Homo sapiens: one gene and its partners. The protein of the gene in region 1 interacts with the protein of each later gene in a pairwise test. Each region holds a gene or a part of one and is shown in the gene's direction. Other genes may lie near its edges.

Region 1 (3,500 bases):
GCTCCTTAGAGCCGCAGTGCTGAGTACACATGTGTGCTGTCTGCGTACACACAGAACAAAATCCAATAGCAGTTTAAAAACCATCACGATAGGGTCTGGGTGCCCGGAATTCAGTTCTGATGGGCAGTGAGACTGTTCACCACCCGCCTTCCCTCCTTTGCAGGGGAAAGACGCCTCAGCCTTCGCCGCCAAGATGAGGGGGGGCTTCTGGCCGGCGCTGAGGATGAACTGGCGGGTGTGGACGCCACTACAGTTCATCAACATCAACTACGTCCCTCTGAAGGTGAGGGCCACGGGGCTCAGCCTCTGCTAACATTACTTTGTCAGCCTTTTCCTTCCTTCCTTCCTTCCTCTTTCCTCCCCCCCTCCCTCCCCTCTTCTTTTCTCTTCTCTTCTTTCTTTGGTAGTTTTCCGCTAGACTTAGTTTCATCCGTGTCTAGACTCCTCAACTACCCTTGGATTTTGCCCATGACCCTGAATCATTGCTAGTTCGGGATTCAGGAAGCAACAGAGAAGGGTGTCCCGAGTGGTCGTCTTTGCCTCTTCTGTTCGTTCAGCAAATTCTCATTAAAAGCCCCCATGCCAGGGATGCCTATGAGTTTTCTAGCCTTTGAAACATTCCCAGTCCCAGGAATGTACATGCAGGCAACTTGAATCTATGCTCCTGGGTTGCAGTCCTCAAACTTGGCCCAAATAAACTCTAGTTATACTTAGAAAAAGAAGGCCGTCACAGTAGCTCACACCTGTAATCCCATCACTATGGAAGGCTGAGGTGGGCAAATCACTTGAAGCCAGGAGTTCGAGACCAGCCTGGCCAACATAGCGAAACCCCATCTCTACTAAAAATACAAAAATTAGCCAGGCATGGTGGCAGGTGCCTGTAGTCCCAGCTACTCAGGTGGCTGAGGCACAAGAATCACTTGAATCCGGGAGACGGAGGTTGGAGTGAGCTGAGATTGTGCCACTGCACTCTAGCCTGGGCAACAGAGTAAGACCCTGTCTCAAAAAATAAATAAAATGTTAAAAAGAAACAAAGCATTCGTGGTCCCTGGGCTCATGAATTACAGCTGAGCCTGAAGGCAGGCACTGTGCGGCCATGGGTCCTGCCGCTGGCCTGGAAGAGCTGCCTCACCTGCAGCCATGGCAGCCACACCTGGGCAAGGGGTGGGCCCATCCAGGTGCAGAGTGAAGGCCTTCTGGGTAAGCTGAGCCTTTCCGCTATCCTGTGCATGAAGGAGCTGCTGTGGGGGCTGAGTCAAAGGTGTCAGATTGGGGCTGGGCTGGTGGTGTGGAGGCTGGAGCTCCAGGCTCTGCCACTGGGATCAACTGTCTTTATGCACAGCCAGGGTCCCCAGGACCACTCCCACACTGGGAGGATGGGGTGCAGCACCCCCTGCAGCATGGCAGGATACCCCCAGATGCTACAGGAGGAGGCCTGGCAGAGCCTGCAGGGGCCACGTGCTTCCCTCCCCCAGAAGGTATGCCGCCCATCAGGGTTTTTTACTGGTACTCTGGGCGGGCATCTCTGCCTGCTGCCCCAAAGCTCCAGACCCCTAGAAAGACAGCAGCTGTGTGGAGCCTGCATTGTTGGTGCAAACAGTCCAGGCACAGGGCAGGTGGCCCTTCTGGGAAAGGTGGGTGCCGTCCCAGCCCAGGCTGCTGCTAGGGAGGACCTGAACAGGCCTGCAGTGGCTGGACCTCAGCTGCAGAGGGCCTTCCTGCATTAGCACCGGCTCTGAGCCCTGCCCAGGAGGGAGGAAAGGACCAGGGTGACCCCCGAGGGAGAGGAGGGAGGCGGCCCAGTGTGTGCACACTGCACACACCACAAACACACCAAGAAGCAGCAGGAAACCAGGGGTGCACACAGACAGGACAAAGAGGCAGTTCACCCTTAGCCAAAGTTGCCAGGAGTTAAAGCAAAATAAAAAAATTTCCTTTGGCTTTAACAGTGGCCCTTCCCAGAGCAATTTCAGCTCTATGGGGCTGAAGCCAGATTGCCTTGAAGAGTGGGTGGGAATTATTTTAAAAATCACAAGTCTAGAACATGCTCTCAAAGTCTGTGGGGGCCAGGCATGGTGGCTCATGCCTGTAATCCCAGAACTTTGAGAGGCTGAGGCAGAAGGATCACTCAAAGCCAGGAGTTTGAGACCAGTCTGGGCAACATAGTGAGACCCCATCTCTATTTTATAAAAATGAATTTTAAAAAGTTTGAGAGAAGGTGAGAAGTGATGGAAGAAGGCTGGGTGGCAGAGGGGGTTCTGACACTCAGAGATGCGGCCATGGTGGGTGCAGACGTGAAGCTGCTTGTGGGATGGGCAAACACGCATGTCCAGAAAGAGCAGCTCTGCGGGGTCCCCTAAGGAGTCAGGGTGGATGTGAGCCCCCAGCACACTCACAGTGGTGCTTGGACAGAGGCCCTGCCCTCTGTGATGAGAGAGGAGAGAGAAAGTGACAGCTGAGCGGACAGGAGAGTGGGACATCCTGCCTCAAGCCCCCACGTGCCTCTCTGGAGGGCCAGGGGCTGGGACTGAGGGCAGAGGAAGTCAGGCGGGCATTTTAAGGGGATACAGGAGGGGCAAGTTTGGCCATGTGGAGGATGGGAGAGCATGCTGACTGCAGAGACAAAGACCTCTGGGCAGAGGGGGCTGGGGCTTGTCCAGCTGTGGTCAGCATCTGGGGAAGTGAGAAGGCAGGAAGGATAAAGGATTTTCCAGGGAGTGTGACTGAAGAACAGTAGGCTAAGGAAGCTACAGCCATGGGCCACTGGTTCTCGGGAATTTAGAGAAGGAAGCAGAGACAACTGAGAAGACAGACTGGCCGGGAACACGGAGGATCTGGGATGGAAGAGGGGAGAGCTGGGAAGCCGCGCCTCTGAGTAGCGTGGGGGCAGAGTCGCCATCCTAGGTGGGTGCAGGTGTATGCGGAAGCAGCATTCATTCAGCAAGCGTTTCCTGAGCAGTGACTGTGCGCCATGCTGCTAGACTCGGAGACGCGGCGATTAACCAGACACATGGGCTGCTACTTTCATAGCACCACGTGCCAGGGAGAGACTCAGCACTGGGCCAGAGGATTCTGGGGAAGGGTGAAGCTGCTGAGTCACCAAAGCAGGGCAGTGGGATGGTGATGGGTTAGAGGAGGGAAGGTCTGGGGCCCCTCCGCTGTTCGTCAGCTGTGTCCCCTGAGGAGGGTGCAGCCACCTGCATGATGGCTGGTCCTGGAGTGAGAGAGGCTGAACCAGGAGCTAAGGTGTGCGGTGAAGGGGGCAAAAGGAGAGTGACTTGGCTTTGGGATTCCTGGGCCGCTGTAGCCTGTGAACACTGTAACTAGGGGACCGTTTTTCTTCTCCACTCCTCTCTGCTAGGGGCCTAGCACAGCGTTTGGTACGAACAAAGGCTCAGTAAATGCAGTAATGGATGGGTGGTTGGACCAGCTGACCAACAAACGGGTAAACAAATGAACTGGGTGACTGAGGCTGGATAACTGGCCACGGCCTCCCGCTG
Region 2 (3,500 bases), on another chromosome or scaffold:
CCTCTCTCCCGGCTCGGGGAATAGCAGTCCGAGAGGAAGGCGCAGGCAGGGCGGGCTTCTGCCAAGGACCGAGAAGGTGCCTCCGCTCGGGGCCTCTGTCCCAGCTTCTGCTCTGCTGCCCATCTGCGGGCTTCCCTGGCTTCTGCCACGGCAGGTCGGCCTCAGCCTCTGTCTCCACACGGCGCTCTCCCTCTGGGTGTGTCCGTGTCTCCGTCTCCCCTTTCTGTCAGGACACAGGTCACACTGCATTAGGGCCCACCCCTCTGCAGAATGACCTCATGCAGACCTAACTCATCACGTCCGCAATGACCCTGTTTCCAAATAAGCTCACACTCCGAGGTAGTGGGGATTAGGGTTCCCACATAGGAATTTCAGAGGACAGAGTTCCACCCATGACACTGCCTGAGGTAAGCTAAAGACCACGGCCTCAAGTCTTCCCAGGAGCCCCGTGTAGCATTGTTGTTGTTACCGTGAACTTCACTGACTCCAGGCCCCTGGCCTCCTCCCTGCACACAGCCCGCCTCCAGCCTGGCCGGCATTTTCCCAAAGTAGGCATTTCCTAGCTCCAGCGAGGACCATGGAGTCAGTGAATTGAGGAGCCTGAGGTCCATGATGCAGAGCCCAGGGGCCACTGTGGCATCTCTGGGCCACTCTGGCACCTGGGGAGGCAGTGGGGTCTGTACTGTCAGTCTAGAGACATAAAGAAAGTGCTTTTTGGGCCGGGCGTGGTCGCTCATGCCTGTCATCCCAGCACTTTGGGAGGCCGAGGTGGGCAGATCGCTTAAGCCCAGGAGTTCAAGACCAGCCTGGGCAACATGGCAAACCCCGTCTCTACAGAAATTTTTAAAAATACACAAATAAGCCAAGTGTGGTGGCGGTGCCTGTAGTTCTAGCCACTTGAAAAAAAAGGCTAAAGTGAGAGGGTCTCTTGAGCCCAGGAGGTTGAGCCTGCAGTGAGCCATGATCCCACCACTGCACTCCAGCCTGGGCAACAGAGCAAGGCCCCGTCTCAAAAAGAAAAGAAAGAAACTGCCTTTTGTCCCCAGTGACTCAGGAGGCCAAGGTGAGAGAGTCGCTTGAGGCCAAGAGTTTGAGACCAGCCTGAGTAACATAGCAAGACCCTGTCTCTAAAACAACATTTAAAAATTAGCCAGGCATGGTGGCGTGCATCTGTAGGCCCAGCTACTCAGGAGGCTGAGGTGGGAGGATCACTTGAGCCCAGGAGTTGGAGACTGCGGTGAGCTGTGATCATACCGCTGCACTCCAGCCTGGGCAACAGAGTGAGGTCTCGTCTCTTGAAAACAAAGTGCCTTTCAGGGCAGTTCCTTAAAGGGGGCTGACAGTTGACCCTGCACTTGGATTCCTGGTGAAGTGGGAGTCGGATGGGACTGAGGACGGCGCTGGCTGTGTTGGAACACACCTACTCATTCAGCTGTGGCAGAATAGGCCCTTCCTCTTGTGCTGGCACCATGTTCTCCAGGCGTGTCAGGGCCTGAGGACTGGGCCGGGGCTTGTCCATTCCTGTGTCCTGGGCCAGGCATTTAGCGAGAGCCAAATTTAGCTAGGGCTGTGGACGCTGGACCCCATCCCCCAGGCCCTGCTGTCCCTTATCAAGAGATCAAGAATGGCCTGCGTGCTGGCCTCGGGCATTGGGAGCCTCTCAAGGCTGGTCAGGAGGCCATAGGGTACGGGAAGGGGCCTGCGCTCTCTGGCGTCAGCGGCTGTTGCCCCTGCAGGTGGAGGAAGGCATGCATCTGCTCATCACAGGCCCCAATGGCTGCGGCAAGAGCTCCCTGTTCCGGATCCTGGGTGGGCTCTGGCCCACGTACGGTGGTGTGCTCTACAAGCCCCCACCCCAGCGCATGTTCTACATCCCGCAGAGGTAAGGAAGCCCGTGCGCCTCTCCTCCACCTCTTCCTGCCTGTGCGCTCACACATGGCTTCCTGCAGAGGCCCAGGAAGTGGTGAAGAGTCAGCACCTCAGGAGAGGACACTGAGGCACTGTCCCCAGAGCCAGAGACGGGCTGTGGTTCCTGCTCCCTCCAAACCCGCCCGATCCACTGCCCTGTTTTGGATCTGTGTGGGGTGTGTGCACGGGCGGCGATGTGAGCGTGTGGATGCGTGTGAGCGTGGCATGTGGACACTGCCTGGGAGGCGCAGAGTATCTTGGGGGAGGCAGAGCCGGCCCTTCCCTCCGTGGACACCCAGCTTTCCCACAGGCCCTACATGTCTGTGGGCTCCCTGCGTGACCAGGTGATCTACCCGGACTCAGTGGAGGACATGCAAAGGAAGGGCTACTCGGAGCAGGACCTGGAAGCCATCCTGGACGTCGTGCACCTGCACCACATCCTGCAGCGGGAGGGAGGTAGGAGGCCTGGGGCTGGCAGCCACCCTTTGTCCCACCCTGGCCTCTCCCTTGGCCTCCAGGGAGTGAAGATTACCTCAACATCCAGAGTCTAAAGTGCCAGGTGCCACGGGGCGGGGCAGAGGCTGCTACCAGGGAGGACCAACACCACACAGATGGCCCCAGGTGCTCTAGGGAAGGGGGCACCTAGCAGGGATGTGCACCTCACTGGGGGACCCAGGATACCCTCTCCCAGAGAAAAGAGGTCTGAGCTGAGCCCTGCAGAATGCTGAGTGGTTACCCCGTCCGGAAGCCAGGGGCAGCAGGGCGGAGTGCGTTCCGAAGGCTTGGTGGTGCGAGAGGCTGGCTCACAGAGGGCCCTCGGGACCAGGCGGGAGCCTAGGCTTTCCCTGAGCAGGATCAGACGCTCTTGGAAGGACCATGGGGTGGTGGGCAGGGGCAGCCTGGGAGGGGCAGGCACATGTGTGCAGTGATGGCTACTGTCAAGAGGTTTGTGCAGACGCTTGGAGGGGGCTGGGGCCAGCAGAGTCAGGTGGATTCAGAGATGAGTTCACTGAAAAGGAGGCCAGACTGAGCTGTTGTCTTGTCCTGGGCTTATCAAGGAATACTGCTTGTCCACAGTGTCTGTCGGGCCGGAAGAGCGGAGGAGGAGAGGGGGCTGCAGCTACAGGGACACAGTAGATGGAGTGTTCAGTTCTGTCTTTGAATTCTGAGCCTCTGGGTTCTGCTTCCAGCCTGCACTGCTGGGTGCGAGATGGCCCTGGGCAAGGACCTCGCCTTGCTGGGGCTCCCCTTCACGGTTCAAGGGCACGGGCACCAAGCCCTCCCTCGGTGGCAACATGAGAAGAAGTGGCTCCTGCAGGAAATGGCCGGGGTGTTGTCACCTGCCTGTGGAGGAAGCGGGGACACAGGTGGCAATGGCAGTGGAGCAGCCCCTGGCCCGGCCCTGCCTCTTGCTCCTGCTGCCCTCAGCCTGGGAGCACGTGGCCCCTCCCGCCTCTGTGGCAGCCTGAATGCCCAGGGCCTGTGGCCGGCCAGCATGAGCCATTAGGATGGAGTTGAGCTGCGAGGAACAGAACGGGCCTCCCCGCAATAGTGGCTAAGATCATCTGTGAGTTTATCCTACTGAGCTGTTA
Region 3 (3,500 bases), on another chromosome or scaffold:
TTTTGATTTGCATTTCGCTGATGATCAGTGATGTTGAGCACCTTTTCATATACCTGTTGGCCATTTGTAGGTCTTTTGAGAAATGTCTATTCAGATCTTTTGCCCAGTTTTAATCAGGTTATTAGATTTTTTTCCTATTGAGTTGTTTACGCTCCTTATGTATTCTACTTATTAATCTGACAAAGGTGGTTTTGACAGCTATATTTCTGTTTGGCCTCTTTATATCCTCTCCCCATTCTGTTTCCTACCTACCTACCCTGTTCTAATACAGTTCAGTGTGTCTTATAGAAAATCATTTATCTTTTGCCTCCCTGAAATGATTTTAACTTTTTGTGTTTTTCTCCTTTTCTCATTTCATAATGCAATTAAATCTACCCCTTTTCTCAAATTTTAAAAACACATGAATAAAATATCTTTTACTTAAGGTCAAACACAAATGGAGTGGCGTAGGCTGGTCATGGTGGCTGACACCTATAATCCCAACACTGTGGGAGGCCGAGGCAGGTGGATCACTTGAGCTCACAAGTTTCAGAGCCGCGTGAGCAACATGGCAAAACCCCGTCTCTACAAAAAAATAAAAAACTTAGCCAGGCATGGTAGCTACTCAGGGAGGATGGCTTGAGCCTGGGAGGCAGTGGTTGCAATGAGCCAAGATCGCACCACTGCACTCCAGCCTGGGCTATAAAGCCAGAACTTGTCTCAAAAAAAAAAAAAAAAAGCAGCATAAATTGGAAGAATAATGATAAGGAGGCCAAACTGAGAATGAGTGAAATTAGTGAAAAATGAAAAGGATGAAAAACTCAGATTCCCTTTTATTTTTTTCTTTTTAAAAAAGAGATATTTGGGGAAGGTTGATGAAAGGGACCAGATAGAGATTAATCTCAGTAAATATCCAGCTGCTACATTCTAGTTTTGTTCCTGTTTTCTCTCTCAATCAGTTGATGGACTAAAGCTCAAGGGGCTGTCTGACCTGGCTTCTGGAGTGCAGTGGCACAATCTGGGCTCACTGCAACCTCCACCTCCTGGGTTCAAGTGATTCTTGTGCCTCAGCCTTCCAAGTAGCTGGGACTACAGGCATGTGCCGCCCTGACTGGCTAATTTTTGTATTTTTAGTAAAGACGGGGTCTCGTCATGTTGGCCAGGCTGGTCCCATACTCCTAGCCTCAAGTGATCTGCCTACCCTGGCCTCCCAAACTGCTGGGATTACAGGTGTGAGCCACCATGCCGGCCCCTTGCTGGCCTCTGTTAACACCACTCTCCTATTTGGTCGTTGCTCACCACCCACCCTGGCCTTCTCTCTGTTTCTCTAATGTGTCAAGTCCCTTCCTACCCCCACCCCCACTTGTACATCCTCCCTCTTCACTGAGGACTCTTATATACCCTTTATACCCTAACTCAGATGTCCCTTCCTGAAGGAAACCTTAGATAAGATACAACTCACCTCATCACCACCTTCATCAAGTCCAGTTAATTATAGGTTGTCATCCATCGATGTCTTAGGTGGGTTCTTTTAAAAACACATTTAGGTTCTGCCTACACAGTAGCCATTCTTTATTCCTTTACTTTCTAAATAAGCTTGCTTTGACTTAAAAAAAAATTTAGGTAGTAATCTCTAAGAATAAGGTAAGCATAGAAATGTAGATGTTTCTTTAATAACTGACTCACAAAAACAACTCACTGGGCGGGCGTGGGGTCTCACTCCTGTAATCCCAGCAGTTTGGGAGGCCGAGGTGGGCGGATCATGAGGCCAGGAGATTGAGACCATCCTGGCCAACATGGTGAAACCCCATCTTTCCTAAAAATACAAAAATTAACCAGGCATGGCGGTGCGTGCCTGTAATCCCAGCTACTCGGGAGGCTGAGGAAGGAGAATTGCTTGAACCCGGGAGGTGGAGGTTGCAGTGAGCCGAGATCGTGCCAGTGAACTCCAGCCTGGTGACAGAGCGAGACTCCATCTCAAAAACAAACAAACAAACAAAACAATTTACTACCCAAGCTTCTTGACTCTGTTCATGGACAAATCATTCTTGTCCTATTTCTTCCCTGCAGGTAGGAAGCAGCATATGAATTGAAGACATTTTTTAGAAAAAGAATATTTCCAATAATAACATGAAAGAACATTTTAGGAAAACAGTATTTCTCCTATTGCTGTAAAAACTTTGTGGTGTATAATTCACATTTCTAGCTTTTAACTAAGTGTCATTTCTAATTTGTAGTCTTTAGACAGCTTTACGTCCAACAATGGACCATTTCAGTATTACTTGGGTGGTCATTCCAGTCAACCCATGGAAAATTCTGGATTTCGTGAAGATATTCAAGTACCTCCTGGAAATGGCAACATTGGGAATATGCAGGTGGTTGCAGTTGAAGGAAAAGGTGAAGTCAAGCATGGAGGAGAAGATGGCAGGAATAACAGCGGAGCACCACACCGGGAGAAGCGAGGCGGAGAAACTGACGAATTCTCTAATGTTAGAAGAGGAAGAGGTGTGGATTACCTTTTTTCTTCCCTCACCTTTATTGATTTACTTACTTATTTTTGAGATGGAGTCTCGCGCTCTGTCGCCCAGGCTGGTGTGCGGTGGTGCAATCTCGGCTCACTGCAACCTCTGCCTCCCGGGTTCAAGTGATTCTCCTGCCTCAGCCTCCTGAGTAGCTGGGATTATAGGCACCCACCACCATGCCTGGCTAATTTTTGTATTTTTAGTAGAGATGGGGTTTTACCATGTTGGCCAGGCTGGTCTCGAACTCCTGATCTCAGGTGATCCACCCACCTCGGCCTCCCAAAGTGCTGGGATTACAGGCGTGAGCTGTGCCCGGCCGCCTGACTAATTTAAAAAGTTTTTCTGTAGAGATGGGCATCTCACTATGTTGCCCAGACTGATCTCAAAATTTACCTCCTTTAGATACAACAATAGAAGTCTTGAAAACAGCATCAGGCACCTCAGTGCCCTCTTTGGGGTTTAACTTGGCAAATAGCTCTAATTCGGTTTCCCTTTTAATCCCCAACAATGCTTGATGCAGGTTCAGCTATGGGAATTCTGCTGCAGTGGAGGTCCAGGATGCTAAAGGGCAATGAGCTAGACAATTTCCTATTTATTATTCAAAACAAAACTTGCCCATTATATTAGCAAATGTAAAATTTTGTAATATTCCATTCCTACAAGGCTAGGGTAACACAATAGTATCTTTTATACTCTGCAATATAACACTGTTTCAGCCTTCTGATAAATAGCTTGGGAACCTTGACCCAGTTGTTATCCTTTAATCCAGTAATGATTCTTTTTGGAATCTGTCTTAAAGAGATCAGGGGAAATTTGGACGAGTATTTACATACAAAACCATTCACTGCAATTTTGTTTGTAACAGAAAAAATTTGAACTCATCCTACCTATCCAAAAGTGGAGAATGGTTGAGTGAATTATTTCATAACCTAACTAGGGAATTTATGTAACCATTTAAGTGTTTTTGGAATAAAATTTAATGAGGCAGATAAGTGTTCA
Region 4 (3,500 bases), on another chromosome or scaffold:
ATTAACCGATAAACTTGACCCCAAACTATCATTGCAAGAAAGAAATCTTTTTTTTTTTTTTTTTGGAAATGGAGTCTTGCTCTGTCACCCAGGCTGGAGTGCAGTGGCACAATCTTGGCTCACTGCAACCTCTGCCTCCCGGGTTCAAGCAATTCTCCTGCCTCAGCCCCCCAAGTAGCTGAGATTACAGGTATGCACCGCCACACCTAGCTAATTTTTGTATTTTTAGTAGAGACAGGGTTTCACCATGCTGGCTGGGCTGGTCTCAAACTCCTGACCTCGTGATCCACCCGCCTCGGCCTCCCAAAGTGCTGGGACTACAGGCGTGAGCCATTGCAACCGGCTGCAAGAAGGAAATCTTTATAGAACCAGTATGGTTTGTGTTCTGGGTACATTTCAACAGAATTCATGTTGTCTTCTCTAGTTGGGGGATTGTGATCATGCTTTTCAAAAGTCCCTGATTTCTTGCTTAGATGCTTTTCATCAGATCATTCGCGATGAAGGAATCTCGGCTTTATGGAATGGCACATTTCCCTCATTGCTGTTGGTCTTCAATCCTGCCATCCAGTTCATGTTTTATGAAGGTTTAAAACGGCAGCTTTTAAAGAAACGGATGAAGGTAATCCTTGATTTTGAAAGCAGTAAAATAATTCTGTCTGACACCTTCTTGTTGACTTGATTGATATGGTTTGTTCTTCCTTTGCTTTCCAGCTTTCTTCCTTGGATGTGTTCATCATTGGTGCAGTAGCCAAAGCGATTGCCACCACGGTGACCTATCCCCTGCAGACGGTACAGTCAATTCTGAGGGTGAGTGCTGGAGTTCTCTTCGCATTTAGTCAAACAGCATTCGAATACATGTAGTCTCTTGATTTAAAACAATGTTAATAAAGCAATAAAGCAGTTAGTTGGTATACCAGAATATTCCCTATCTGTTTTTTTTCTTTTCTTTTTTTGAGACAGGATCTCCCTCTGTCACCCAGGTTGGAGTACCGTGGTGCACCATGGGTCTCTATACCCTCGACCTCCTAGGTTCAAGCAGTCCTCCTGCCTCAGCTGCCCAAGTAGCTGAGACTACATACACCACCTTGTCCAGCTAATTTAAAATTTTTTTGTGTGAAGATGGGGTCTCACCATGTTTTCCAGGCTTGTCTCAAAGTCCTGGACTCAAGCGATCCTCCCACCTTGGCCTTCCAAAGTGCTGGGATTATAGGCATGAACCATTGTGCCTGGCCCCCATTTTTTCATTTGTTTGATATTCTGCTTAACTAGGCTGGCTGTCATTGGTTTAGAATGAAGTTTGCATTTGTAATTTCTTAGGTAACATAATGTCTCAGAAAACACAGATGTGGAGACAAGTTCCTTAAAGACCTCAGGAAAGCATAAGTTTGCTTCCTTCTCATTCAAGTTGATTGGTTTGGTGCCCCAGCAGGGATTATCCTTTACAAAGTCAGAGGTTAATTCCTTTAGTTCACTCAGGAGGAATGAATGATTTAGCTTTTTTGAAGCACTCTCAAACTTCTGTTTTTTATTTCATTCAGTTATTTATCCATTCAAATATTTACTAAGCATCCACACTGTGGGAGGACCTGGGCATGCAGTGGTAAATAAAAGTCATAATCCCTGCCCTTATGGAGCTAGTGGAAGAGAGAATGAACAGGTAAACAAGCAAAATAAATAGGTAATTACAAATTGAAAAAAGAACTATAAAGGAAATTATTTACTGGAGAGGGGCATGGTGGGGCTCTTCTTAGATAGCATGATTGGAGGTGGGCTTCTTTGAGAAGGAATATTTAAATCAAGATGCAAAGGAGGGTAAGGCCCTAGTGGGGCAGAGTGGACGAAAGTGCATTCCAGGCAGGGGGAGCATGATGTGTGTGTTAGTCCATTCTCATGCTGCTCTAAAGGACTGCCTGAGACTGGGTAATTTATAAAGGAAAGAGGTTTAATTGACTCACATTTCAGCATGGCTGGGGGGCCTCAGGAAACTTACAATCATGGTGGAAGGGGAAGCAAACATGTCCTTCTTCACATGGCGGCAGCAAGGACAAGTGCAGGGGGAACTCCTCCTATAAAACCATCAGATCGGTTGGGCGCGGTGGCTCACGCCTGTAATCCCAGCACTTTGGGAGGCCGAGGCGGGTGGATCATGAGGTCAGGAGATCGAGACCATCCTGGCTAACAAGGTGAAACCCCGTCTCTACTAAAAATACAAAAAATTAGCCGGGCGCGGTGGCGGGCGCCTGTAGTCCCAGCTACTCGGGAGGCTGAGGCAGGAGAATGGCGTGAACCCGGGAAGCGGAGCTTGCAGTGAGCCGAGATTGCGCCACTGCAGTCCGCAGTCCGGCCTGGGCGACAGAGCGAGACTCCGTCTCAAAAAAAAAAAAAAAAAAAAAAAAAAAAAAAAAAAAAACCATCAGATCTCATGAGACTTATTCACTACCACAAGAACAGTATAGGGGAAACCACCCCCATGATTTAGTTATCTCCACCTGGCCCTGCCCTTGACTTGTGGGGATTATTACAATTCAAGGTGAGATTTGGATGGGGACACAGCCAAACCATATCAATGTACTAAGAATTTGGTGTATCCTAGGGACTGAAAGAAGGCCTCTATGGCAGTAGAGTGGCTCAGGGTGAGATTGCAAGAGCAGCAGGGAAACTGTAGGTGAGGAATGTAGATTTTTATCCTCAGCACTTTAAGCTGAGAATATGTGATGGGAAGGGCTTTAAGCTGGGGAATATGTGCTGTGATTTACAATTGAAGAAGACTGTTGTGGCTATTATGTGGTGAATTGGTCAGAAAGCTAAGAGAGAAAGCCAGGGGCAATCTAGTAGGAGGCCATTTCAGTAATACAGGCAAGAGAGGATGGTGGCCTGGACCACGGTGGTGGCACTGGAGAGGAGAGGGGTAGGATGAGGACAGATTCAAGATCTGTTTTGGAGAAAAATTTCAAAAGGCTTGTTGCTAGATAAAATAGGGGTGGTAGTGAGAATATTCCAGTTCAGAAAAATTAGTACCTTCTGTTAAAAGCATTTTTACTAATATATTATTTTAAAATTGGTACTTAACATAAGGGAATTCAGTAGCATCCTTATAAATGTATTTTAACACTTTTATAATGTAAACACATAATCTGAAGAGCTTAGACTGCAGATGTTCTAAATGATTCATTTCTCAGAATTTCTTAAAGAAGTGGAAGTTATTACCATCAATATCTAAATCATCATCCTGGGCATATTTTTTTCTTTTGAGGTAGAATTTTCCCTATACCTCTCTATAAAATGAAAATTATTATGCTTGCTTCATTGAAAAATTTTTCTTAGGCCGGACATGGTGGCTCATGCCTGTAATCCCAGAACTTCGGGAGGCCGAGGTGGGTGGATCATTTGAGGTCAGGAATTCGAGACCAGCCTGGCCAACATGGTGAAACCACATCTCTGCTAAAAATACAAAAATTAGCCGGGCGTGGTGGTACATGTCTATAATCCCAACTACTCGG
Region 5 (3,907 bases), on another chromosome or scaffold:
CAGGTATGGAGATGTCAGTGTCTAACTTTCTTCTAGTCTTTGCAATTTCACAAGGAAAATCACTAAAATGTGCGTCTCTTCATTTAAAAGAAAAAAAAGTTCATGCCAAAGCTGCTGGGACAAAGAGGACTCATGATAGTGGGTTATTCCACACTGTTGACACACTGAATGTATGCTGGCAGAAGGGCCTCAGGTGGAATGCTGGGCATGGGTTTGCCCCACAGCAGTCTGATTCAAAAGCACCTGAGAGATGGGAGGAGTACTAGGGTTACTAAACACAAGAAGGTGTTTCAGGAGAAACACATCAAGCCATTTGTTTTTGACCCTTAATACTTAACATGAATGATGAGTTGCAGAACAGTCAGTCTTTCCAAGATGTATTGTTCTATCCTCAATAGCTGCAGCCTCTCCAAGCCAGTGGGCTGGTGACATCCAGGATGATCCTCTTCCTTGCCTGGAGGTGGGATCTAGTGCCACAGCTTGTTCGGGGAAGCTGGCATAGAAGATGATTTGCTCAACAAAGTCACCGCTAAACTATCGCTTAGGTCTAGTCCCCGGCCTATGGCACCAAGTACTCCTGGTAGTACTTGTACACAGAATTTCTCTATAATAACCAGAACATGTCATCCATGGTAATGTCTGCTACATATCCAACCACAGCATCAAATTCTGTCTGATGAAGGGCACCAGCCCCTTCATCTTTATCATGCCTAATATTGTGAAGGCCATGTGCTAAATCCAGCAATCCGCTCCAGTAGGTGTCCTTCAGGATACTTTTCTGTCAAGTAAATACATTTATTAAAAATAGGCATGTAGCCGGGCGCAGTGGCTCACACCTGTAATCGCAGTACTTTAGGAGGCTGAGGCGGGCGAATCACGAGGTCAGGAGTTCGAGACCAGCCTGGCCAACACGGTGAAACCCCATCTCTACTAAAAATACAAAAAATTAGCTGGGCATGGTGGCGTGTGCCTGTAATCCCAGATACTCAGGAGGCTGAGGCAGGAGAATTGCTTGAACCCAGGAGGCAGAGGTGGCAGTGAGCCGAGATCGTGCGATCGTGCTATTGCACTCCAGCCTGGGCGACAGTGTGCGACTGCATCTCAAAAAAAAAAAAAAAAAAAAGGCATGTAAAAGTTAATCTCATGGAGGTAGAGAGTAGAATGACAATTACTAGAGGCTGGGCAGGGTGTGTATGTGGGATGAAGAGGTGGCTTGATGGACACAAACATAGATAGAAGGAGTGAGTTCTAATGCTTGATAGCAGAATAGGGTGACCATTGTTAACACTGTATTGGGTGTTTCAAAATAGACGGAATAAAGGATTTGAAATGTTCTCAACACATAGAAATGAGAAATACTCAAGGTCATGGGTATCCTGGATACCCTGAGTTGATCACTACACATTCTATGCATGTAATGAAATGTCACATCTACTTCAATAATATGTACAAATATTATTTATCAAAAAGCAGGCATGTAGGTGAGTTGATTTTCTTCCATGTCTTCAAACTCCTGGTAATACTTGTCCACAAAATTTCTCTATAATAACCGGAACATGTCATCCATGATAATGTGTACTATATATCCAACCACAACATCAAATTCTGTATCAGAGGCAGAAGAGAAGGACAGCATGAAGCTCGATTCCTCCAACTGTCCTTTGGCTGGTGGCCCTCCACCCTGCCCACAGCCCGGCCAGCTCAGCCCCGTCTCTGTCCCATACAGAGCCACAGCCACAGTGAGAGCCTGGCAGCCTGCCCGGAGGAGGCTTCTTGGCCCAGCCCGGTCAACACCCACATGCACCACCACCAACTTTTTGCTATTGTGAATAACATAGCTGTAAACAGATTGCATATGAAAGTGCTGTGAAATCACCAAGGGCTGAGTAGAACAGTTAAGACGATAGTAGTTGTTTTCTTTCTGGGTTTTTCTCTTGGGCTGGTTTTTGAAAGTGGATCTACAACATTGATAGAGATCAGTTTTTCTGCTCTTCCAACATACTGCCAGGACGTGGTCCAGAAAGATTGGGTACTTTGCAATACTCATAGCAATATGTGAAGTGATTGGAAAAAATGAGACTATTCAACCAGTTGTTTCAGTGTTGGTTAGGAGGAAAATGCCCAGAAAGGGGAACAGTTAATCATCTACACAATACCAAGAGCAGGAGGGGATGACCGACGGCTTCATCTTTCCTAGTCTATCCCACACAGACCTTTAGGTGCTCTTTTTTTTCTTTTTTTCGCTCTGTCGCCCATGCTGGAGTGCAATGGCGCGATCTCGGCTCACCACAACTTCCACCTCCCAGGTTCAAGCGATTCTCCTGCCTTAGCCTCCTGAGTAGCTGGGATTACAGGCATGCACCACCACGCCTGGCTAATTTTTGTATTTTTAGTAGAGACGGGGTTTCTCCATGTTGGTCTGGCTGGTCTCGAACTCCCAACCTCAGGTGGTCCACCTGCCTCAGCCTTCCAAAGCGTTGGGATTACAGGCATGAGCCATCGCACCCGCCTCTTTAGGTGTTCTTTTAGGAGCTGGTAGCGGAGGAAGGTGGTTACCCATCTGTGACAGAGCCTTGGATGTCACGAGGCCACAGGCTGGCCTTTCCTCCTGTTTACAGGAGGTGAGTTTTCCTGAGTTCCCAGCCTCAGTGTTCTCTGCACAGTCTGTCACTGACTCCCGCTCCCAGTGCTCACTGCCTCTTGTTCTCACTGCCTCCTGTTCTCACTGCCTCCTGTTTCTGCTGAGTTCTTTGCATCTGCCTGATGTTGGTTTAAAGCTCCACCCCTCCCAGGGGAATTTGTCCCATGATTCACCTCCTCTTTGGTGATCTCTTGATTGCGGCTGCTGCAGCCATGTAAACCTTAAAGGCGAGCCAATTTGTTTGTGATCCAGTGGCCAAAATGGTTCACCCTCAACTTCCCTTAATCCCCTGCAGCATCTGAGACACATGGGTGAATGTATGTAAGGTACTTGGGGCTAACCAAAGTTAAATACATATGACAAGTACCTGAATCTAGATAATCTAATGGTAAGATATCGTTTGCTCTCTGGACTTCATGGGCTCACCCCAGCAATGGGGTGCCTGGAAATGAAGAGATCTTTCTTGTGTCTCATCCTCTGGGCTCCCAGCCTCCCTCAACATCATGACCTCCATCTGTAACACCCACCATCCTGGAGCAGCATCCTGGATATTGGAACTCTGAAGTCTAACCTAAGAGAACAAGGACAAGCCTCTCTATGAAAGGTTTGCCCTTCCAGATCCAGTTGAGCTCTGCTCTGGAGCCAGACTCTCTGAAGCATAGCCCAGCTCTAGCTCTTACCAGTTATGTGATCAGGAATGAGAGTTAATGTTTCTATGTTTCTGATTCTTCATTTGTAAAATGAGGATAATAAAAATTTAACTTCAGAGGTTTGTTGTGAGGAATAAAAGCCATTAGCACAGTGTTTGGCATATAGAAAGTGCTCAGTGTTGGGGAATATTGAACAGATAATGAATATCGCCAAGAGTCTTTTCCTGGGTGATTGATAGAAATTATCTTACCTCCTGCTCTAATGAATGTGGCTCAACTATTTAGGCCATAACTGTAATTATATTTGGTTATATGGCCCCACAGCATTAAAATTCATACAAGAAGAACTTCACTCACACATAGTAACTGGAATGCAGTAGATGTGGATAATTTCTTTAAAAAGCCTAAATCATATGGGTGGTTGTTTTTTCATAAACAGCCTAGGCTTAACTTCAGTTTCTCATCTACAAAAAGGGGACTGTACTAGGGTTCTCCAGAGAAACAGAACCAATAGGTGGTATCTTGAGAGTTATAAGGAATTGGCTCATGCAATTATAGGGGCTGGGAAACCCAGGACCTGCAGTGGTTATGCTGGAGACCCAGAAGAGCTGAAGAT
Region 6 (4,058 bases), on another chromosome or scaffold:
AAAGGAAAAAAAGTACTTGTTAGGAGGGCTACATGTCACTGGGCAACAGGAACTTTTCAGCTTCATTATAATCCTATAGCACCACCGCTGTATATGTGGTCCTATAAGATTATAATGGAGCTGAAAAGTGCTAGCGAGCTTCTTAACTGGGATAAAAGTTTGTTTGTAAACGTATGTAAATGTATTTACATGTGCTAGCCCAGGGTCAACCTAAAAGGTAGCGAAAGTGTTTAGCCCAGAAGTCTACATAGAAACTAGGGTTGTCTACCTCCATACCACCCTGAATGTCCCCCGATCTCGGAAGCTAAGCAGGGTCAGGCCTGGTTAGTACTTGGATGGGACAATAGGGCTAAGGTGAGTAGATTTAATGCTCCAGGATAACGACCTTTACCGACAGGTCATTGTGTGGCACGTGGCTGTATGTAGTTATTAAAATGTAAATACATATATTTACAAACAAACTTTTTTTCCCAGTTAAGAAGCTCGCTAGCACACAGCATTCTGTTGAAAGCCCCCTTTATTTCGCAGTCCTGAAGGGAGTGAGGGAAGGAAGTAAAAGGGCAGAGGAAATAATGAATGAATGCGAGACGCCGATTGTACAGGGACTTGTTTCCATACTGCTCTCTACCAGAAACGTTCTCAGTTTCCTTCCTTCTGCTGGACATGTTCCAAGGGCCAAAACCTCAAATAATGTGACTTTGTAGATTGGAGAGTGTGTGACCACAGAAAGGAAAGGGAGGCAGCACGTGCCAGCCGGCGACAGAATGTTAAGTCTGCAGCATACTCCACCGCAATGAAACAAATAATTTGTGTATTTCCTCCCCTTCCTTCGCCCAGAGCCACTGTGAGAATGGGCTACAGAAAGTTTCGAGGCAGTAAAGCCAGTTGTTCACCCAGAACATCTGACTGCCATAAAAATTATGGTGACGAGAAAGAACGTTTGCTCAAATGCCGGGGTCGGGTTGAGGGCTGGAGAAAGGTCCCACCCCGCAGCATCTACCTCCCGGGCTCCTCACCATGTGCATCGCCTCCTCCATCCACTTTTCGGTCTCCTCTGCCGACACCGAGCACGCGCCGCTTGCAGCTGGCTTGGGTGCCGCCTTCGCCTCCATACCCAGCCACCACTCAGCTACAGAGCCCGCGGCAGAGGAGGAGCGCGGGCAGCGGAACGCGGCGGGCCCGGGACCCCGTTTCCGGGGGTAGTCTAATGAAAAGGCACTCGGGAGCTATTTCTGAACGGACCTGGGCTTGTCGGACCAGTGAGCGGCGGCGGCTGCGCGGCGGCAGCGGCAGAAAGCGTAGCTGCTTTGCTGTAGTCCACGCCCCCTTGCCGCTCCGGTGACAGTCTCTGCGGAAAGTCACGTTTGTGATTTCGGGAGAGCACAGAACGGGACGACGGCGCTCTTGCTGGGTCATCTGGGCCAGGTGACGAAGAAACAGTTTCCTGGTGAAGCAGTCCCTCACCCCTAGTCAGCCCACACCCCTAGGGCCTAAAGATGCTGAGGTCTGTATGGAATTTTCTGAAACGCCACAAAAAGAAATGCATCTTCCTGGGCACGGTCCTTGGAGGTGGGTGACAACGTGCTTGAAAGGGGGCATTGGGAGAAGGGGGTGGGAGAGGTGACTTCTTCTAAAATAAGGACAGGCCGGGCGATCCTAGTCTGGGATATGTAGAGGGAGTTCGATCAACCATGGGATGAAAAGGGAGGTGGCCAACCTCCAGGGTTCTCCCATCTCTGCAGTTGAGAAATGCCTCTGTGCCCTTTGCCCTGTCACCGACTCTTAACTCTGTTTCTCACCTATCCTTTTTTCTCACGGACCTTTGGAGAACTCATCACAGTTTAAGTTTCTGTTTCAAGGCACCATTCTCTTACAGGAACTTTTTAAAAAAAATTCTGCTTTCCTGTGAGATTCTGCATTTCTCCTTGGCACTCTTGATACTTTGGCTCTCACCCTTCTCAGGAGTTTAATAATAATCTAGGGAAGTTACCTATAGGCTGCACTTCGGGTGGTGGTTAAAGTCGATTTGAATTTTTGAAAACAGCGCAGTTGTCCTAAAGGACTGAAAGATATGGATTAGATAAAGAAAAACAAATCAATATTTTAGCTCTGTTTCTGCCATTTTAGAATACAAACTATGGCAGTAAGAAAAATGCTTGAGGGATGTTGTGCAATCTTCCTCAGGATCTTCAAGGTTGGGATCATTGTAATCTAGCTGACATAACTGAGTTGCACAGGCCCAGAGGAGATTTAGAAACAGATAAGATAAAAATCTTGAGACGCTTTTCCCTCATACAATGCTCATGTGATAATATTCAGGGATTTGAAGGAGGGAATAAAAGTTTTGTGAATTATATGAAAAGGACATCTAGGAACTATAAAAGAGGAAATTTGTTAGAACTTGAGTTTTTGAGAAATAGTCTCATCACTTATTACATGCTATGTTTACAAAAGTACTTAAAATCAAGAACAGAGTTTCCCAAAGAATTTGGTTGGCTTTTCTCTTAGTATTAGATTGTATTCTGTTCTCCCCAAACAATTTGAAATTAACAGTACGTATTAGATTGTATTCTGTTCTCCCCAAACAATTTGCAATTAATACCTTTAGCATCAATAGTTCAGATTTTGGTGATGCTTGAAAGTTTGAAACAGAGTTCTTGTTGCTGAGCCAAGGATGGTGTTTTGCATGTCTCTGAGGTCTATCACACATCAATAATAAGCATATGTAAATTTTGAACACCTTCGAGAAATCCTTTATATATAAAAGGTATTTTCTGATATCTTCAGTCGCTAGTATCTAATGTATATTTAAATTATCCTAAGACTACAGAGTCCATTTTATTTATAAAAGCTAAAAATATATGTGTGATTGAAGAAATACAAATAAAGTATTTTTGCGTTTACTGAAGGAAGGAAAATTATCTCTTTAGCGATCTCAGAAGGAATACTCCTTCAGCTTATGGAACAACTTTGTAGTAGATTAGAAATAATCACAGGGGAAGCAAAAGAGTATACTTAAACTTATAATTTTTTTAAAAAACTAACAAGAGCTTTATAGTTACAGAATAAGAGGAATGCAAAAAATAGAAAAGTTCAGACGGCCAGAAAGAGAAAATAATCCTAGTGTTTTATATCAAAAAAGGAGTCAGTCTGAAAAGAAAGGAAGAGTAGATGACCGTGGTTGGCATTTGTTTGAGTCTCATGTTCTTTCTGCTTCAGGGAGAAAGTTCTACAGTGTGTTAGATTTTAATTAGTCTAACTTAAGAAATACCTATCAAGTGCCTGTAATGCTGAAGGTAATATAAATGGAAATACAAGATTTATATATTTTTAATAGTAACAGCTACTATTTATTGGGTGCCCACTTTACGCTGGGCATTGTGCTAAGCTCTTCCTATTTAAGCAGAATGACAAGAAGACAATTATTATTATCCCCATTCAAAAATGTGGCAGCAAGAACCCTAAGAATTTAAGAAACTTGCCTCAGGTCTCAGAATTAGTGAAGGGGAACTGGAATTCAAACCCAGGTGTGTTGGACCACAAAGCACATTCTATTTCCATATTATATCACTGTGCTTTCATGGCCTTTATAGTCTGATAGGAAGGAAAAGCAAGTATACATGTAATTAAGATACAGAAAAACAAGAGAGGTGAAAAAATGCTGTACAGATCACACTGGCAAGTAGCATATGCAGTTGTGAAAAATCAGGAAGAATTTCATGGAAGAAGAGACACATTTTGACAGGCTTGAAAGCTGGGTAGTATATCAACAGGCATGCGCAGAGAAGTTTGGGCATTCAATAGTGGGGGAAGTAAGTAAGTAAAACCTTGAGTAGCAGGCCTTCTTAAGTAACAATTTCTGTTTCCTCAGATTTTGGGTGGGTAACTAATTGGTTTACGCGTTTGTATAATTTGACCAGTTTGGGGGGTTTGGGTGTGTTCGGGTTTTGTGTTTTTTTGTTTTTTTGTTTTTCAGACAGGATCTTGCTCTGTTACCCACGCTAGAATACAATGGTGTGATCGTAGCTCACTGCAGCCTTGTTTTCTCCTTTGCTAGC
Region 7 (3,500 bases), on another chromosome or scaffold:
GCAGAGTATTTTCTCCTTACAAGTGGAATGAATTTAGCTTATTAGACCCTTGCAGATTTTTGAGTACCTGACTTACAGATTTTTAATAGTAGATAGTTGACTATTAAATTCCTTTTTCCAGTTTCATAGCAGTTTATTTCATTACTGCTTGGAAAAGTCTTTACTTATGTTAATATATGATTTTAACTTATTTATGTATAATCATCAGATTAACATTTGTAATTTTGGGAGCGTTCTTTTTACTTTAGTGAGTGTACATTTGTAGTAAAATTCATGTTGACCTTAACTTTTGCCAGGTTACTTGGAGTGATATAGCAGGTTTAGATGATGTCATTACGGATCTGAAAGACACAGTCATCTTACCTATCAAAAAGAAACATTTGTTTGAGAATTCCAGGCTTCTGCAGCCTCCAAAAGGTATGGTAAAGGTATATATTCGCCTAAAGCATTAAAATCCTAGAAAACATTGAAACTTTCTGCCATTGTAGAACTAGTTTTTGTGAAATCAGATTCTCAAGAGGATGCTGAGATCTATGTGAACAGTTTCTTAAAATAATTGCTCATTCTTCAGCTTCTGAAATTGAGATAAACTTTTTCCTGTATTTACATGTTAAAATACTTGTTAAAATAATCTCCTTCAATTTCTTTTCTCTTACTTCCAAGTAAATTAAAATTTGGAAAATCAAGATTAAAGAAAGATTCAAAGTCATAATACAAGTTTTTTGTTTTGTTTTGTTTTGTTTTCAAGCCAAGACATTTTTTTCTTGTTTCACAGCTCCAACGATCTTATTTTTAGAATGTAATGATTCTTTTTCAGGAAATATTTATCTGCAGATGAACTAGAAATTAAATATTTAACTTTGATGGAGATGTTTGCTTATTCAAAATCACTTTGAAAGTCTTGGAACTCAAGAATTGAATATGCTCATAACTGCATCATTAAGTGTAATTCTTGTTCATTCAAATCTTTCTTTTTTTTTCTTTTCTCTCTTTTCTTTTCTTTTTGAGATGGGGTCTCACTGTGTCACCCAAGTTGAAATGCAGTGGCATGATCTTGGCTCACTGCAACTTCCGCCTCCCAGGCTCAAGTGATCCTCCCACCTGAGCCTCCTGAGTAGCTGGGACCACAGGCATGTGCCACCACGCCTGGCTCTTTTTTTATATTTTTGGTAATGATGGTGTTTCACCATGTTGCTCAGGCTGGTCTTGAACTCCTGAGTTCAAGTTCTTCACCTGCGTTGGCCTCCTAGAGTGCTGGGATTACAGGCATGAGCCATTGTGCCCAGCTAGTGCACATATTTCTGTCATGCTTAAGGCTTGTTAAAGGTGATTCAGATGGAGTGTAAATAATTTACAGTGAGAGATATATGTGTGTGTTACTATGGCGTTCAGATCCAAATTTCACGAGATAGCTTATTTTCATCTAGCAGAAACTCTTATCTAATGCATTGCCAAAACTATATGGGTTTGATATGTTGTTAGTCAAGACTTAAATTATTAGTCACATTGATTTTTCAAAAAAGTGGATCTTTAAAAATATCAAAATAGCATTATGTATGTTTAAATTATAATGCTTATAATCTTTCTAAATTTGCAGCTATATCAATAAAGTGCATTAATTTACATATCAAAGGTAACTGAAGCCTGTACCTGTGCATTTTTATGAACTACATAATTTTTGTTTCTGGTAAGTGGAGGATGACAGTTAACAGCAAAAATGACATGTTCTTTTATTATTAAAACAACAAAGCTATTAGGTATTTCTTTTTGTTTTCTGAAATAACAACACTGCTTATAGTTTTTCCTAACAAAACACTCAGTTTATTGTGATTTCCCCCCTGCCGCAAAAAAAACTTTGAATGATTATTTGAGCCCAGATCAAAAATGTATGGCTATAGTTGGATTAGTTAAGTCTTTACTACCCTCTTCCAGGTTATTTGTAGTCTGAACAAAAAATGACTTTTCTGCATTTTTAGTTCTCAATTGGACAATGCTAGTGAATTTAGGAAAGTAAAATACCTTTTATATGCTGTTGGAGAAAGCTTCTTTTTTTATCAGTGTTATCTTAGACCAGGTAATTGGGTGATTTCTCCAGTTGGACTTGGTTTAAAGACCCATTTAGCAGAGTGGATACCAAATTATGCAGGGAATACTTCAAAAGTTATATGTAAATTTGCTTCTTATTTGAAAGCATTGTCCAATTTAAAAGTTACATGAATATTTTCTGATTATATAAAGTTTTGCTATTTGAACTTTTTCACCTTTATGTCTGGACAATTTTTAATCAAGAATAACAGTTTTGAAGATCATTAATTTACTTTTTGACCCTCAATATAAATTGGATATTGGTGTATAGAAGCAGAGTGTAAAATCAGATGCATCCTTGTTTGTTCCATTTTGGGACTGGAACTAGGTTACCTAGGTTAGAGTTATTGACAATTTTATGTTATCCTTAGACAGTTTATTGCTATCTGAGCTGAAAGTGATCACTGCTTCACACAGACTACAAAAAGATAATTGGAGAGTGACTGCAGTATCCATGCAGTGCATGAGGTCATATGTAACTATTGTGTATAGATACAAAGTTGAAGCTAATGCACACCATGATGCCGCTAATTGGTGACAGGGAAATGGGGGCACACATAAGATATTGACGGTTATATTTAAAAAGTGATTTTTTTCCCTCAAACGTCTAAAAATTTACAACAGTTAAAATTCCAACAAAATCCATCTGAATACCATATGGCTTCCTCTGTAAACTTTCTGAATTCTGTATTGTTATTTTGGTATATAAATTTTATTACATTTGTGAATGTTATACTTCATGTTTTGGTGCATTCTTTAAATTGTGAGTAACCTAAGGAAAAAAATAATTTTAAAAATAGATTTTCTGTTATAAAGACCCATATTCTTCTCAAGTACTTTATATTTAAGTAGATTTAATTTATATAGATGTGTATTTTTGCACCATTTGGACAAATTTTATGTTAAAGCCAATAAACAGTTGTCCAAAAAAGAAAAATAGTCACTAATAAGGTGGAATATTTGTCACAAATGAGGATTATCTCAAATTTAGATTTGTGTATCCCAATACTTTTTTTGTTCTTATCCTTTTTTTTGGAGACAGAGTCTTACTGTCACCAGGCTGGAGTGTGTAACCATAGCCCACTGCTGCAGCCTCCTGGGCTCAAATGATCCTCCTGCCTCTGGGTCCTGAGTAGCTGGAACTGCAAGGCATGTACCACCATGCCTGCCTAATGTTTTAATTTTTTGTAGAGACAGGGTCTCACTTTGTGGCCCAGGTTGGTCTTGAATTCCTGGGCTCGTTATCCTCCTGCCTCAGCATCCCAAAGTGTTGAGATTACAGGTGTGAACCACTGTGCCCATCCTCTTCCTAAATCTTTTATTTGCATATAGCACTTACTAAGTAAAGCCATTACCAAAAACATCCGTCTTAAAAAGGAGTTTAAATTTTTAAGCCTCTATAAAGCTTAAGATAA

Evidence for each region.
Region 2: the proteins of PXMP2 (region 1) and ABCD1 come close enough for resonance energy transfer, tested with the Homo sapiens proteins (one large-scale study listed by BioGRID).
Region 3: the proteins of PXMP2 (region 1) and ACBD5 come close enough for resonance energy transfer, tested with the Homo sapiens proteins (one large-scale study listed by BioGRID).
Region 4: the proteins of PXMP2 (region 1) and SLC25A17 come close enough for resonance energy transfer, tested with the Homo sapiens proteins (one large-scale study listed by BioGRID).
Region 5: the proteins of PXMP2 (region 1) and PEX26 come close enough for resonance energy transfer, tested with the Homo sapiens proteins (one large-scale study listed by BioGRID).
Region 6: the proteins of PXMP2 (region 1) and PEX3 come close enough for resonance energy transfer, tested with the Homo sapiens proteins (one large-scale study listed by BioGRID).
Region 7: the proteins of PXMP2 (region 1) and ATAD1 come close enough for resonance energy transfer, tested with the Homo sapiens proteins (one large-scale study listed by BioGRID).

What each region holds. Positions count from the first base shown.
Region 1 is NC_000012.12:132,701,087-132,704,586, forward strand, and holds part of PXMP2 (peroxisomal membrane protein 2), read left to right. Parts: intron 1-163; coding exon 164-283; intron 284-3,500. UniProt on the Homo sapiens protein: Seems to be involved in pore-forming activity and may contribute to the unspecific permeability of the peroxisomal membrane.
Region 2 is NC_000023.11:153,738,356-153,741,855, forward strand, and holds part of ABCD1 (ATP-binding cassette sub-family D member 1), read left to right. Parts: exon of another isoform or gene 1-223; intron 224-1,736; coding exon 1,737-1,882; intron 1,883-2,218; coding exon 2,219-2,364; intron 2,365-3,500. UniProt on the Homo sapiens protein: ATP-dependent transporter of the ATP-binding cassette (ABC) family involved in the transport of very long chain fatty acid (VLCFA)-CoA from the cytosol to the peroxisome lumen.
Region 3 is NC_000010.11:27,209,798-27,213,297, reverse strand, and holds part of ACBD5 (acyl-CoA-binding domain-containing protein 5), read left to right. Parts: intron 1-2,216; coding exon 2,217-2,484; intron 2,485-3,500. UniProt on the Homo sapiens protein: Acyl-CoA binding protein which acts as the peroxisome receptor for pexophagy but is dispensable for aggrephagy and nonselective autophagy. Binds medium- and long-chain acyl-CoA esters.
Region 4 is NC_000022.11:40,774,347-40,777,846, reverse strand, and holds part of SLC25A17 (peroxisomal membrane protein PMP34), read left to right. Parts: intron 1-473; coding exon 474-619; intron 620-711; coding exon 712-807; intron 808-3,500.
Region 5 is NC_000022.11:18,101,990-18,105,896, forward strand, and holds the end of PEX26 (peroxisome assembly protein 26), read left to right. Parts: 3' UTR 1-3,407; downstream 3,408-3,907. UniProt on the Homo sapiens protein: Peroxisomal docking factor that anchors PEX1 and PEX6 to peroxisome membranes. PEX26 is therefore required for the formation of the PEX1-PEX6 AAA ATPase complex, a complex that mediates the extraction of the PEX5 receptor from peroxisomal membrane.
Region 6 is NC_000006.12:143,449,547-143,453,604, forward strand, and holds the start of PEX3 (peroxisomal biogenesis factor 3), read left to right. Parts: upstream 1-1,258; 5' UTR 1,259-1,496; coding exon 1,497-1,569; intron 1,570-4,058. Other genes in the region: ADAT2 (tRNA-specific adenosine deaminase 2), read right to left, coding at 1,017-1,112. UniProt on the Homo sapiens protein: Involved in peroxisome biosynthesis and integrity. Assembles membrane vesicles before the matrix proteins are translocated. As a docking factor for PEX19, is necessary for the import of peroxisomal membrane proteins in the peroxisomes.
Region 7 is NC_000010.11:87,787,227-87,790,726, reverse strand, and holds part of ATAD1 (outer mitochondrial transmembrane helix translocase), read left to right. Parts: intron 1-296; coding exon 297-417; intron 418-1,597; exon of another isoform or gene 1,598-1,662; coding exon of another isoform or gene 1,663-1,687; intron 1,688-3,500. UniProt on the Homo sapiens protein: Outer mitochondrial translocase required to remove mislocalized tail-anchored transmembrane proteins on mitochondria.